Regions from separate parts of the Homo sapiens genome. Here region 2 is linked to region 1. A link means that fine-mapping ties the variant in region 1 to the expression of a gene that starts in the linked region. Tissue or cell type: whole blood. Region 1 holds a variant in brackets; the other region holds the start of a gene. All regions are shown on one strand. Distances are from middle to middle.

Region 1 (6,005 bases):
ATGGCATTTACGTACTTAAGAAACTTTCTCATTCCGTATGTAACCAAAGTGCAAAATTCACAAATGCCAACTGCAGGGACCTCCTCCCTCACAACTGTCAAAGCCCAGTGGGAGAATCTGCAACGGGACCTCAGAGGAAGCCCTCTCCGTGGCGACAGGGCAAGGCAGCCACTGCAAGCAACAGCACTCAGGCCAGAGCAGCTGTTCTCATGAGAACATGTGATCCAGTCACAGGATCAAACACTGGGATGGGAGCCAAGTTCTGAAAAGATAATAAAATTCCACTGATTGGATGGTGCTGAGGTACATGTTACCCTCTGTCATTTCAGTCATTAATTAGCCCTTACATGTTACCATCTGCCATTTAAATTTACCCAAATCAAGAATAAAAATAAAACTGCAGCCCAGATAGACACCTGAGGCAGTGGAAGGTCTCCGGTGCCTGTTCAGGGCTTCACGTGGATCTGAGCATCATGCGGACACGGTGGCGTCTGCCCTCAGGGACACTGCACATCCATCCTCGTACCACGGTAGGGACGGTCACTCAGTGGGGCGGGGGGAAGTGAGGGCTGCCCCGGCCCACCCCCACAGGCAGACTCAGCCCCTCCGTGCCGCACCCACACATCCATACAGCAAATACCTGCCCAATGTCCACTTTCCGTGAGCAGGCAGCCGGGGCCTCAGGTGATTTACATACTGCTGCTGGGGGTTGGGGTGGAGACTTAGCGTTTAGTAACCACCACCCAACTATGACAGTGGTATTTCAGAGACAGGACGACATGGAGATGGGAATCCGGATGGTCTGACTGAAGGATCAGGGGAGAAATCCCTCAGGACAGAGCATCCAAACTGAGCTTTAAATGCCACCTGGACACGGCCAAGTGCACGGCCTGAGCAGAGTTCCTCATGTGGATGCAGCGGCATGGCTGTCGGGAGGGACAGCGGCGTGGCCATCGGGAGCCCTGGTAGCAGGGAGGAACTGAGACAAGTCCGTATTTGTGATTTGACTCAACAGTTGGACAGCACAGTGCAAGCCTGCAGGCCAGAGGCCTCCGGTGCAGACAGTGTAGAGCTTAACTCACACTGACCATGGGAGGCCTCTTCCTGGAGAGGCTGCTCACGCGACCCCATGATGGAAAAAGTGTGGGGCTTAACTCACACTGACCACGGATACCTCTTCCCTGGAGAGGCCGCTCACGTGACCTCATGGAGAGAGGCTGTGCCGCACAGACAAACCCCCTTACAGAGTCCTTGTAACTTGCACCTGGGCATCAAGCTGTCCGGCTATTGAAGGAAAAGCAAGCTGGGCTTGGAGAGGAATACCAGATCTTCATAAATCACTCAATACCAAGAAACATTTCACAGACAAACACATAAGAAGTTGCTGTGAGAAAGAGGAGCTGTATCTGAGCAAAGAAGGTTCCACCATTTATAGCCACACTGAAATTTTACTCTCTAAATCTCCACGGCCTGTGTCATACAAGCAGTGAGGCCTTGTTATCCAAGTCGACACTGTTATTAAGATCTCTCTGAAGAGGCTGCCAGGCAGTGGATTTTATTTCCTAGGTTTACAACTTTGACTGGGCTTAGAGACTGATGAGGGATGGGTTTGAACCGCAGAAGGGTGAGAGCGAAGTGGGCAGCTTCCCTAAGCAGCGTCTTCTCCCTGAAGATGATCTTCCAGGCACCCTCTCTGACCCTTCTTTCACTGCATGTATAACTCACATTTCTTCCTGGCTCCGGACAGTCTTTTCCTCAACTAGATTTAGGCAGGTGCTCAGCACCAACGCTCACTTCTGAATCCCGACTGGAGGCCCCGACAGACGCTGCCCTCCTGAGCAGCTGGGACGTGCCTGGCTGGCCTAGGGAACAGAACCCCCATTGTAGCTCGTAATTCTGCATCCCAAACAACATCCTAGAAACACTTTTAGAATAGTTTCTGGAGGAATAGGAATGTAAATGTTAGGAAAAAAGGGTGGAAGTTAATCAGAACACAAACCCCTTACAGGCAAGTGCGCAGCAGCACAGGGGAACAAGAAAGAAAGATGTTTTCCACGAAGATCCTGCACAAAGGAAGTCACGTCCCATGGGGCCAACCAAGAAAGCAGCCTCGGCTTTGGAAACGTCTGCGTTCCTTGCTGCTTCCCAGGACAGCTGCACATGGTGCACACTTGCGTGTCACAAGCAACGTCTCCAAATGAAGGTCGGCAGGGAAACAGCCTCGCTGGGGCCCTAGCACCGCTGTCCGGAGTCCCCCCATCCTGAGTCTGGTGTCTGGGCCTCAATCAGGCGGCCCGGGCCGTCCTTCTCCTGTTTTCCTCACGTTTCCGGCAGATAAATTCTGAAATGGACCTCGTGGCTAAAACCCAGCCCTGTCGCCTTCTCATCAGCTCTGCCCCTTGCTCCTGAGAGGGTGCGAGGGAATCAGCCCAGAGAGGGCTCCTGAGAGGGCCCAGAGAGGAGGAACGCAGTGGAGGCCAGGAGGCGAGGCGGGGTGTCCTCTTCTGAGACCCCAGTGGCCAACTGTAATAATAAAGTTTGCCTCTATGACTTCATTTTACCAATTTTTTTTTTTTGAGACAGGGTCTCGCTCTGTCCCCCAGGCTGGAACACAGTGCCACAATCATAGCTCACTGCAGCCTTGACTTCTTGGATTCAAGCAATCCTCCTGCTTCAGCCTCCCATATAGCTGGGATCACAGGCACCCACCATCATGCCTAATTTTTTCTTTTGTAGAGACGGGGACTCCCTTTGTTGCCCAGGCTGGTCTGAAACACCTGGACCTAAGCAATCCCCTTCCTCAGCCTCCCCAAGTGCTGGGATCACAGGCGTGAGCCACCACCCCCGGCCTTGTATGTGATTTTAAAACACATTTTGAAGTGTAACCCTGAACACGAACCTAAAACTTCCACCTGCATATGATTTTCTTCATTCTGGTGGAAAATGCACTGAACTCCCTTTTTGCATCATGAAATTCCTGTATTCAAAATACTGTCCGCCAAAGTAATTCTTACCTTTGAACAGAATCCTTACCTCTAAGAACATACTCTATGATTAACTGCTTTTTCTATTTCAAAAACCCTTACTTTGCTCTTTGGAGATGGAAATCTCAAAATCACTCCTTCTAGCAGATCTCAGAGGCCAAGACCCATCAGCTCATCCTTTAATTGGGTCTTTGGCTATAAGATGAAAGTCTGTAGAATACCAGTGGCTTTAAGAAGTTTTATAATTTGTCACGCATTCTTCTTAAGTGTTTTCTAAGTGGTGCCCAACTGAGAAAGGGGAATTGTAAAAGCAACGTTCTACTTCAATAGGAAACGCAGAACTGGGCCCTGATTCACAGGGACAGACCTGGTCTCTGGCGAGCTCTGGGCCTGTGGAGCGACCTGGCTCACTGGAGAATGGGACCCTCAGGCCCCCAAGGCCACACCCTACACGTCTGTAC[G/A]GGATGGCACTCGGCGGGTGGCCCTTTTCTAATGTGTACCCTGCTGTGGGGCTGGCTCTCAGCAAAGCAGCGCTCACCGAAACGAAAGTAAAACAGAGGCCGGTTCCCTGCGGTGCTGGCCACCCGCTCCCGAGCCGCAGCTTCTCGGACGTCGCACACCCCGATGTGGGCAGAGCGGAATGTTCTCCTCGGCGCTCCTTCACTGTGCTGCAGTCTACACCGAACCACGGCAGCTCCATTCGCTGCTGTAACAAGTTGAAAAAAAACTAATTAATTCAAACTTTAGTTTTTTTTAAATTTGTTACAGCGCTGAGCAGAGCTGCCGACCCCATGCAGGACAGCACACAGACCACCAAGGGGACCACAGGGCACGACCGCCCTCTGCGCCCGGCTAAGGCCAGGGCCACCGCGGGAGGCACGGTGCGCTGGAGAACCGTCCTGGCAAGCGAGGAACCGCTTCTGTTTCACTTTTGTTTGGCAAGGCAAGAAAGTTAAAACCAACAGCGTCCGTGGCCTACAGTCAGACCCCACCTTCTGCAGCACATGAGGGCACCTGCAGAGGGGAACTCACAGGGACAGGGCGGGGGCAGCTGTCGCCCCATGGCTCTGCGAGAAGAGAATGAGGGAGGGGGCGCAGGCCATCAGGGGATCTACCCAGCACTGCCCTGAAGCCTCTCGCCCCAGCATTCCAGCCCAGCCCTCTGCTCCCCTTCTCTCGGGTTCCTCGGCGTCTATCCCTGACTTAAGCCTCTGCTAAGCAAGGTCCACAGAAACATGTTCACTGTTACATCACTGTCTCAAAAATCAAGGCAAGAAAAACACGAAATGAAAACAAAACTACCAATAGCAGAATCTCCACACCGTTTCCTGCAGCCTGAGCCTCAGGAAACTTTCCTTACTGAGTCAACAGGACCCGGACGGGCCTCGGGAAGAACAGAATCGGGGTTTGTGCAGGTGTGGACATGTGCATCCTTAAACCTTCTAAAATCTTCTTTCAATGGTAAGAACTATGCAAGTTCAATTTCCACCTTTAAAATTTATGTTGCTAGCCTTTATGTTTGAGGAAGAAACTGCTTGTGTTAGCTTTAAGCCATTCCTCAAGCCTACCAAATTTTCAAGGTCGCTCTTGGGCTGAATTGAGCTTGCCAGCTGGGAACTGAGGTGCTAGAATCCCCATCTAATATGAGATTCTTTTTCCTGACATTTACAGAACCCAGCTCAAGTGCAGGAAAGCTGCCAATCTGCACACGTAGAAACGCTGGCGGGAAACCGACTGCCCTTCTCAAGAATCATCATGGATGTTTGCAACCACATCTCAACACACAACCAGCTTTCACGATTGCCAAGTCCTGGGCGGGGTATCACAGCACTGTCTAGATTTGGCCTGTGCCACCAACAGAAGCCTTGGATTAAACCAGAATCAATAGTAATAAATAGCTCTCTAAACCAAATATGTTGAAATCACTAATGCACTCATATTTTTACGATTATAGCATTTTAAAGTAACCAACCCAATACCGATCTCTACTTATAGAGAAAACACCTATTAGGCACACTTATAGAAAAATCCTCTGTGCCTTGTATATTCACACAGCACGTGTGATCACTCAAAGGAACTGAATGCCTGGAGGGTGAACGCCAGACGCCTCCTCCTGCCGACTGGGAAGCAAGGGAGCGTCTGCCTCCAGATGTTTCTCTGGCACATAGTGAATGCGGGAAATGAGAGGACTCATGCTACTCATGGGGGTTACCTACTCGGAGGCTGCGGAAGGTAGGCTCCAATTAACTTTGACCTCTTCTTTTCATATCCTTTTTGTGTGATGTCACCTGCAAGAGAAGGAAAATGAAGTTCAGTATGGTCTCCGTGGATAGAGCATTATCATTCAACGGTGCCCAAGAAGACACAGTTATCACAGTATCTTCTGTGTGCCTCATTGTTAGAATTTTAAAAGCAAGCACTGCACATCAAACAACTTCAGTTCCTCCCCTGCTCTCGAACAAAAGCCCACAGCATGTAAGTCACTAAAACTCATTTGTTAAACACACGCCTGTTTCTGGCCCCTTCTGTATTTATCCGGATGGGGTCCAGGGTTAGACCCCTGCCATCTCATCCCCACCCGCTGGCACAGGAAGCCAAGCCTGGTGGCCGGGGCTCTCGTTAACTCAGTCAACGACAGATCCTGCAGCTGCCAGGGCCGGGATGGCCGACACCAGCACCTATTGGCATCTTCTTCATTAACAAGATGTTTTCTAACCAAGCAGGTCGGTCACAAGGACTTGAAGCCGCCACAGTGTTTTTGAAAAAGGAGTGACAAAGGCTAAGGGAAGAAGCAAAAGGTGTGAAACCTGCAGAAATCCAGAAGACAAGAGAAAGGTGCTTGTGGTGAGGCAAGAATCCACATGTTAAAGCTCACAGACAGCCACGGACGCGCAGCAGCCATGCCTTTCCTGGAGCCAGCGCAAGCACACAGGACAAAGCCACCTCATCGACACACAGAGGCCCTTCCCATTCACAAGCTCCAGCACACACAGAATACTCATTCGCTGTTCATTTTTTTGG
Region 2 (6,005 bases), 210 kb after region 1:
GCCGCATGCTCTGTGGTGTGAGCTGGCCTCACCTTCCCCTGTGAGGGGGCACAGGGCACGGGACAGGGACAGGCAGTGGAAGAAGGATGGAGCCCTCGGCCCCGCAGCAGGAAGTGCCCCTGCAGCCCTGCAAAGCAGGACACCAGCAGTGCATGTAATGGCGCCCAGCAGGCGGGCACAGCAGAACTGGACCAGGGTCTAGAAACCCACACAATGCGTAACCCACGCAGGCTGGCAGCCCACACAGGAACCTCAGGGGAATGCTCTACTCTTTCCTTCAGTCTATGTTATGTGCTTAAAACGGAACTTTTTCCATCCTCCTCTGTAGGAAATGAGCACTGGAAATTCCACATATGTTTCTATAATATTTTCTGATATTTTAATAAAATGATGACAACCAACTTAAAGAATTCTCTCCACTTGAATTTTGATTGAAGATGGGAAATAATTCAGCATTAACAGCTGTTTTCAGCTTTCACTCTGAAAGCAGATACATTGAGGAATTTTTGAAGTCCAATAACATAAAGAAACACAGAATTTTGATCCTTCAATTCTTGGATTTCTATTAAGCAATACTGGAAAACAAGTTGATTCATCTAATTTAAGCCTGTAAAACTGTTTTATGTGGTTATGAGACAGAGAATTCCAAATGACCTTACAGCACTACCCCCATAAACTCAACCTGGGCAAACCCACACTTCACAGCAAAGTTAAAGACCATCCAGCAAACAGATGAGGCAGTGGGGCCAGCACAGGCCGGAGGGTGCAGAGAGGCTGAATAGAGCCACGGAGCAACCCTCTCACCCTTTCTTCTTAAATGTGTAGCTCAGATCTCAGCAAGATTCATGTGGAAGGAAAAATATAATTAGGCTTCCTGCATGCAAACACACACACCCCTTTCTCTGCCTGGTCTCTCAATAAGAAACTAACTCATTAAGCCCTTTTTAAAAAACCTGTACAGACGCAAGGTGTTCACAGGGAATTCGGCTGAGCACACCTTCGTCGAAAGTGGCTTTGCCATCATCTGGGCAGCAAGACAGTATCACTCACCCTCCAAGAGCAACTGACAGGCAAGTGTCGTCACCTCAAAAGGCCACAATGCCCAACACAGGACACCCATTCCCATAGACATCCCAGACTCTGGGAACAAATGTGGGTCCAACTTCTGGGCTAGCAGTGGGTGGGGGAACCCTCAGATGGGGCTCGCCCTGCTGAGCTCAGGGGCGCTACGCTCTGCTGACCTGGATGGGGCACTGACACTTCACATCAGTGTGATGCAGGCAGCACAGAAGCCCCTGTCCTGAGACAGCGAACACGGAGGGTGCTGCAGGCAGGGGTGCACCTGGGCCGAGACGCAAGCCGGGAAACCTACCCAAGGCTGACACAATCAGATAACCAGGGTGGGCCTTTTGCAAATGATACACTCCTTACCCACCAAACGAGCTGTCTGCACTGCACAATCTACTTACCAGTTTACATCCGAACCCTGCACACGGCAGCTCCCGCCTCCTAGCCATGCCCTCCTCATCCTCAGCTCCTCAGGAGGGCAGCAGCCAAGCCCACAGGCCTGGAAGACTCTGCCCCCCGCCAACTGTGTCACGTTACAGGACACTGACACACCTCGCGGAACCCCACATCTGAAACTGAAAAACAGTACCATTTCCCGTCCCCAGAAGTCTGGAAAGGCAGTTGGCTGCACACCATGGCCCCTGCTCACTCCCTTCTTTGCCCTGAAAGTGTTAAAAAGGAAAACATAAAGTCAACACCAGCTCCTCCCTGCCGGTGAAAATTGGCACGAATGAGTTTACTTTCTGGCTGCCGGCCCTCACAAAACCGTTACCCAAAAAAAGTTCACCATGCTAAACTGCTCCAAATATAAATGTGAGACGCGCCGGCCCACCCCCACCCCACCCCACGTTACAGGAATGGCCTGACCAGGATGAGCCCAGAGACGGCTAAATGCACATCAAACATTTCAGATTTGGGAACTTCAGTGGTTTTGGGGAAAAGACCTGGCAAAGCCCGATCTGAAACTTATGACAGTTGAGCACATGATCTCCGCCATGAAGAGCAAATAAGAGGCGTACACAACCCTCCATAAGACCGCGGTGGCTGATCTGCCACAAACCCTCCTACGAGAGGACCAGGACGGCAAGGCCGGAGCCCGGCCCGGGGGGAGGTTGACGATTCCGCCCAGCCCTCCCCGCGCAGCGCCCGCGAACAATGGGGGTGGGATCCCCCGGGCCGCGCCAGGACCGCTGCACGGCCTGAGCCACCAGAGATCGAACCCGGGGTCCAACGACAAGTTTCGCATTGAAATCTGGCCGGGCGTTCCAGGCCGAACCCGCCAGCGAGGAGGTGGCGCGCACCGCGCTGCTGCACCAAGGACGCCGCGGCTCCAGCGCAGAGCGCACGGGAAGGCCGATCCCGCCGGGCCCGCTGCATCCTGCGTCCCCGCGCGGCGCCCAGGCCCCACAGACACCCCCAGGGCGCGGGGGGATCGCGGCCCCACAAACATCCCAGGGCGCGGGGGATCGCGGCCCCACAAACACCCCCAGAGCGCGAGGGGATCCCAGGCCCCACAGACACCCCCAGGGCGCGGGGAATCGCGGCCCCACAAACGTCCCCAGAGCGCGGGGGATCGCGGCCTCACAAACGTCCCTAGGGCGCGGGGTCTGGGGGTCCGGGGGACGCGCACGCTCCGGGCTGGGGTCGCACCTCCCCCTCCGGGCCCGGCCCCCGCCCCGCCGCAGGCCCCGCGCCCCCAGCCCTCCGCGCGCGGCCCTCCCCGGTGACAGCGCGGCCCGGCCCGGGGCGGGGGCCCGGTTACCTTCCGACAGCTCCAGCTCCAGCTCGGCCAGGCGCGCCCGCACCTCCAGGGGCAGCGCCATGCCCTCCAGGCTGCGGTCCGCCATGCTCCGCGGGCGCCGCGCCCCGCACGGCCTCCTCTTTGTTCGCAGGCGGAGGTCTCGGCGGCTCCTCGCGCCCGGCGGAACCGCACCGAGGAGGAGGCGGCGGCGCGGGCGCGGGAGGCGGGCGGCGGGCGCGCAGGGACCTCCCTCCCCTCGGCGCCTCCTCAGCGCGGCCCCGCCACGGCCGCCTCGCGCGCCCCCGCGCCCCACGGTCCCCGGCCCGCCCCGCGCGCGCTCGGCCCCTCCCCGCAGGCGCTGCGGACCCGGACCCGGCCCTGCTGCTCTCGGCCCCGGCCCGGCGGGAGCGTCTCTGCGCGCGCGCGTCACGGGGCCGCGGGGGCAGGGCGCGCGCGCGCGGGGCGCGAGGACGCGCAGGAGCGGGAGCGCGCGGGGGGGCGCGCGGCCGCGTCGGCGAAGCGCGCGCTCCCGGGGGCGCGCTCGGGGGCGGGTTGGGGGCTCGGGGCCCGCGGGGCGGGGCGGGGCGGGGCGGTCTTGTCTGTCCTGGGCTCTGCGCGTCCAGCGGAGCCTGCGGGCCCGGCCCCAGAGCCTGGTCCACCCGGCTCCCTGCGAAAATCACGTCCTGGAGCCGCAGCTTGACGTCTGCGCGAAAACTCGCAGTGCCCCGGGTCTTGGAGGGCTGGTTTTTTGTTAATGAACATTTTAAGAGGCGGAGACGGAGCGCTAGGCTGGAAGTTTCGAATGCAACGACCAGCAGATGACCTTGAGCGACTCTGAGCCTTTGCCTGGAGGGTCAGTGTCCCCATCTGTGAAAAGGGGATGGGAAGACAAGGTTGGGTCACCTAATCTCCAAATGCCAGGTGGGCCCGAAAAGCCTGGCTCCAGCCCTCCCGGAACAGGCTGCAGGCCCCAGGGTTCCCACCGTCCTTCTCCTTGTGGGGCCATCAGCTCCCAGCCTCAGTGCCACCTCGGCGAGGCTGAAGCCCCGTCTGTGCCTCTAGTCCTGACCATCTGGGGAGGCCCTCGCATCTCCAACCGTCCACTGAGCAAACTTCCCTGGAAGCCCCTAGACACCCCAAACGCCACAAACCCTAAATGAAGCCAGCTGCTTCCAGTGACTCTTAGTCACTGGAAGTTCTGCTTCTCAGAACCGCCCCCGTTGTCTTCATCATCACCTTCCTCTGTCTCCACACATCCTCCCCAGTCTGTTGCACAAAGCCCCGACGACCTGGCCTCCTTTTCATCCTTGTACCCCCTCTTCCCAGCCCGGCCCCTCCCTTAGGCCCAGAGCTTCCTAAAGACCTCCTCGCCTCCCCGTCCTCCACGGGACATTGGCCAGCGCTGGCTCCCGGAGGCCCAGCTGCACTCACTCCCCTTTCAGAGTGGGCCGCAGGAACACAGGTCCCCCACCTCACCCCCCTACCCCTACCCCCCACCACCCCCCCACCCCGCTTCGACCGGAGCCCCCACCAGCCGGGACCCACCTGCACGGCAGCCTTGCGGCCTCCACACTCCGGCTCCTGCAAACAACGCGGCTGACCCGCAGCACCTCTGCTCCCGGCCTCCACCCCGGAGAGCCTGCCCCTTCTCTGCCCCTGCCACCCACAGCCATCCCTGACCCCAGGTCCAGAACAATCTCTCTCCTTTCTCTTCCTGCACCGGCCACTTCCCGCCCTCATCACGTTTGACCTTTTTTATCTTCTCTGTATTCTTTGTGAGTGTAAGCGCCTGGAGGACAGAGCCCATGCCTCACCCACCTTTGCCCTTCCCATGGATCTAGCAGTGGTGGCAACCGCCAGAGGTGTGTGCATTTCCTGTAAGGATCGGTCCTTTCAGTGGGGAATTGTGAGAATGACATTCGACGATGAGCTGGGAAACAGGAACCCCAAACCCGTGTGCTTCCTGCGCCGAGCCGTGTGCCTCCGCCTGGTGTGCGCCGTGGGTTCGTCCTTCGCTCCAGACTGCGTTCAATGCAACAGATACGGGTGGCACAAGCATGTGGCCCCACCATCATCTCTCCCCTTTGCATGATAAAGAGACCGACCAGCAATGCAGGGGCCGTGGGGAAGATCCCACACAGCCCCTACACGTCACAGATAAAAGTCCTTAGAGACAGAAAGGGGAGCAGAACCAGGATTCAAACCCCAGTCTCCAAAGCAAAGCCCTGAGTTCATTTCATTACAGCAAAGATGCACTGTGCATTCCAAGCAATAAATGGTGTCAAGTCCATTTAGGGCGGTATAATGTCGGAATAAAAAATATATATTCGCGGGCCAGGCACGGTGGCTCACACCTGTAATCCCAACACTTTGGGAGGCCAAGGCAGGTGGATCATGAGGTCAGGAGTTCAAGACCAGCCTAGTCAATATGGTGAAACCCCATCTCTACTAAAAACTACAAAAAATTAGCTGGGCATGGTGGCACACACCTGTAGTCCCAGCTACTCAGGAGGCTGAGGCAGGAGGATCACTTGAACCCGGGAGGTGGAGGTTACAGTGAACCGAGATCGCACCACTGCACTCCAGCCTGGGTGACAGAGCGAGATTCAGTCTCAAAAAAAAAAATACATATATATATATATATATATATATATATATATTCTTTTTGATGGGCCTTAATCATTTGCATATGATCCTATGACTGATGTTGGTTGCAAAGAAAACTTGTAATTTGCATTAAACACATCAATTGCAAACTCAGATTTTGAGCTGATGGTTCCTTTCAGCAGGTCTTTGGGCACCTACACATTACACGTGTGAGTGTGGGCTCTCGGTCTTAGACTGCCATTTCCAGGAGCCTGATAGATATCATCTTTATCTGGAACTCCTACCATCTCCTTGAAATTCATGCTGTCCACAATCAAACTCATCCTACCTACCAATACTTTCCCCCATGTACATTATTTCTGAGAGCAGCCTCCCTTTCACTTTGAGTCCCCTCAAGAACTTCTACCCACAGCATTTCTCTTGTGCGCCACCTGCTCCTGTCGAGGCCTCTGGCTATGGCCCATGTCAGGCCTTCAGAGCCTCCTTCCAGTCTTCCCACCACGGCTGTCAGATCACTCTTCTAAAAAGTCCCTCTTAGCACAGACCACAGGCCCCTTGCTGTACAACCCATGATTCTATGCCTGCAAAC

What was found. PIP is the estimated chance that this variant, and not a neighbour inherited with it, causes the effect.
Region 2: it holds the start of DIP2C, and the variant in region 1 is fine-mapped to the expression of DIP2C in whole blood (TOPMed, PIP above 0.99).

What each region holds. Positions count from the first base shown.
Region 1 is chr10:481,259-487,263 of GRCh38, forward strand. It overlaps DIP2C (disco interacting protein 2 homolog C), which reads right to left. Exons shown (of 37, transcript NM_014974.3): 2 at 5,201-5,272. Among named protein-coding and RNA genes, the nearest start is that of DIP2C-AS2, 140 kb to the right of the region's middle. The variant G/A (reference allele first, on the strand shown) is at 3,446.
Region 2 is chr10:686,664-692,668 of GRCh38, forward strand. It overlaps DIP2C (disco interacting protein 2 homolog C), which reads right to left and starts at 3,005. Exons shown (of 37, transcript NM_014974.3): 1 at 2,831-3,005. The coding sequence starts at 2,915. RefSeq lists an enhancer at 3,380-4,315.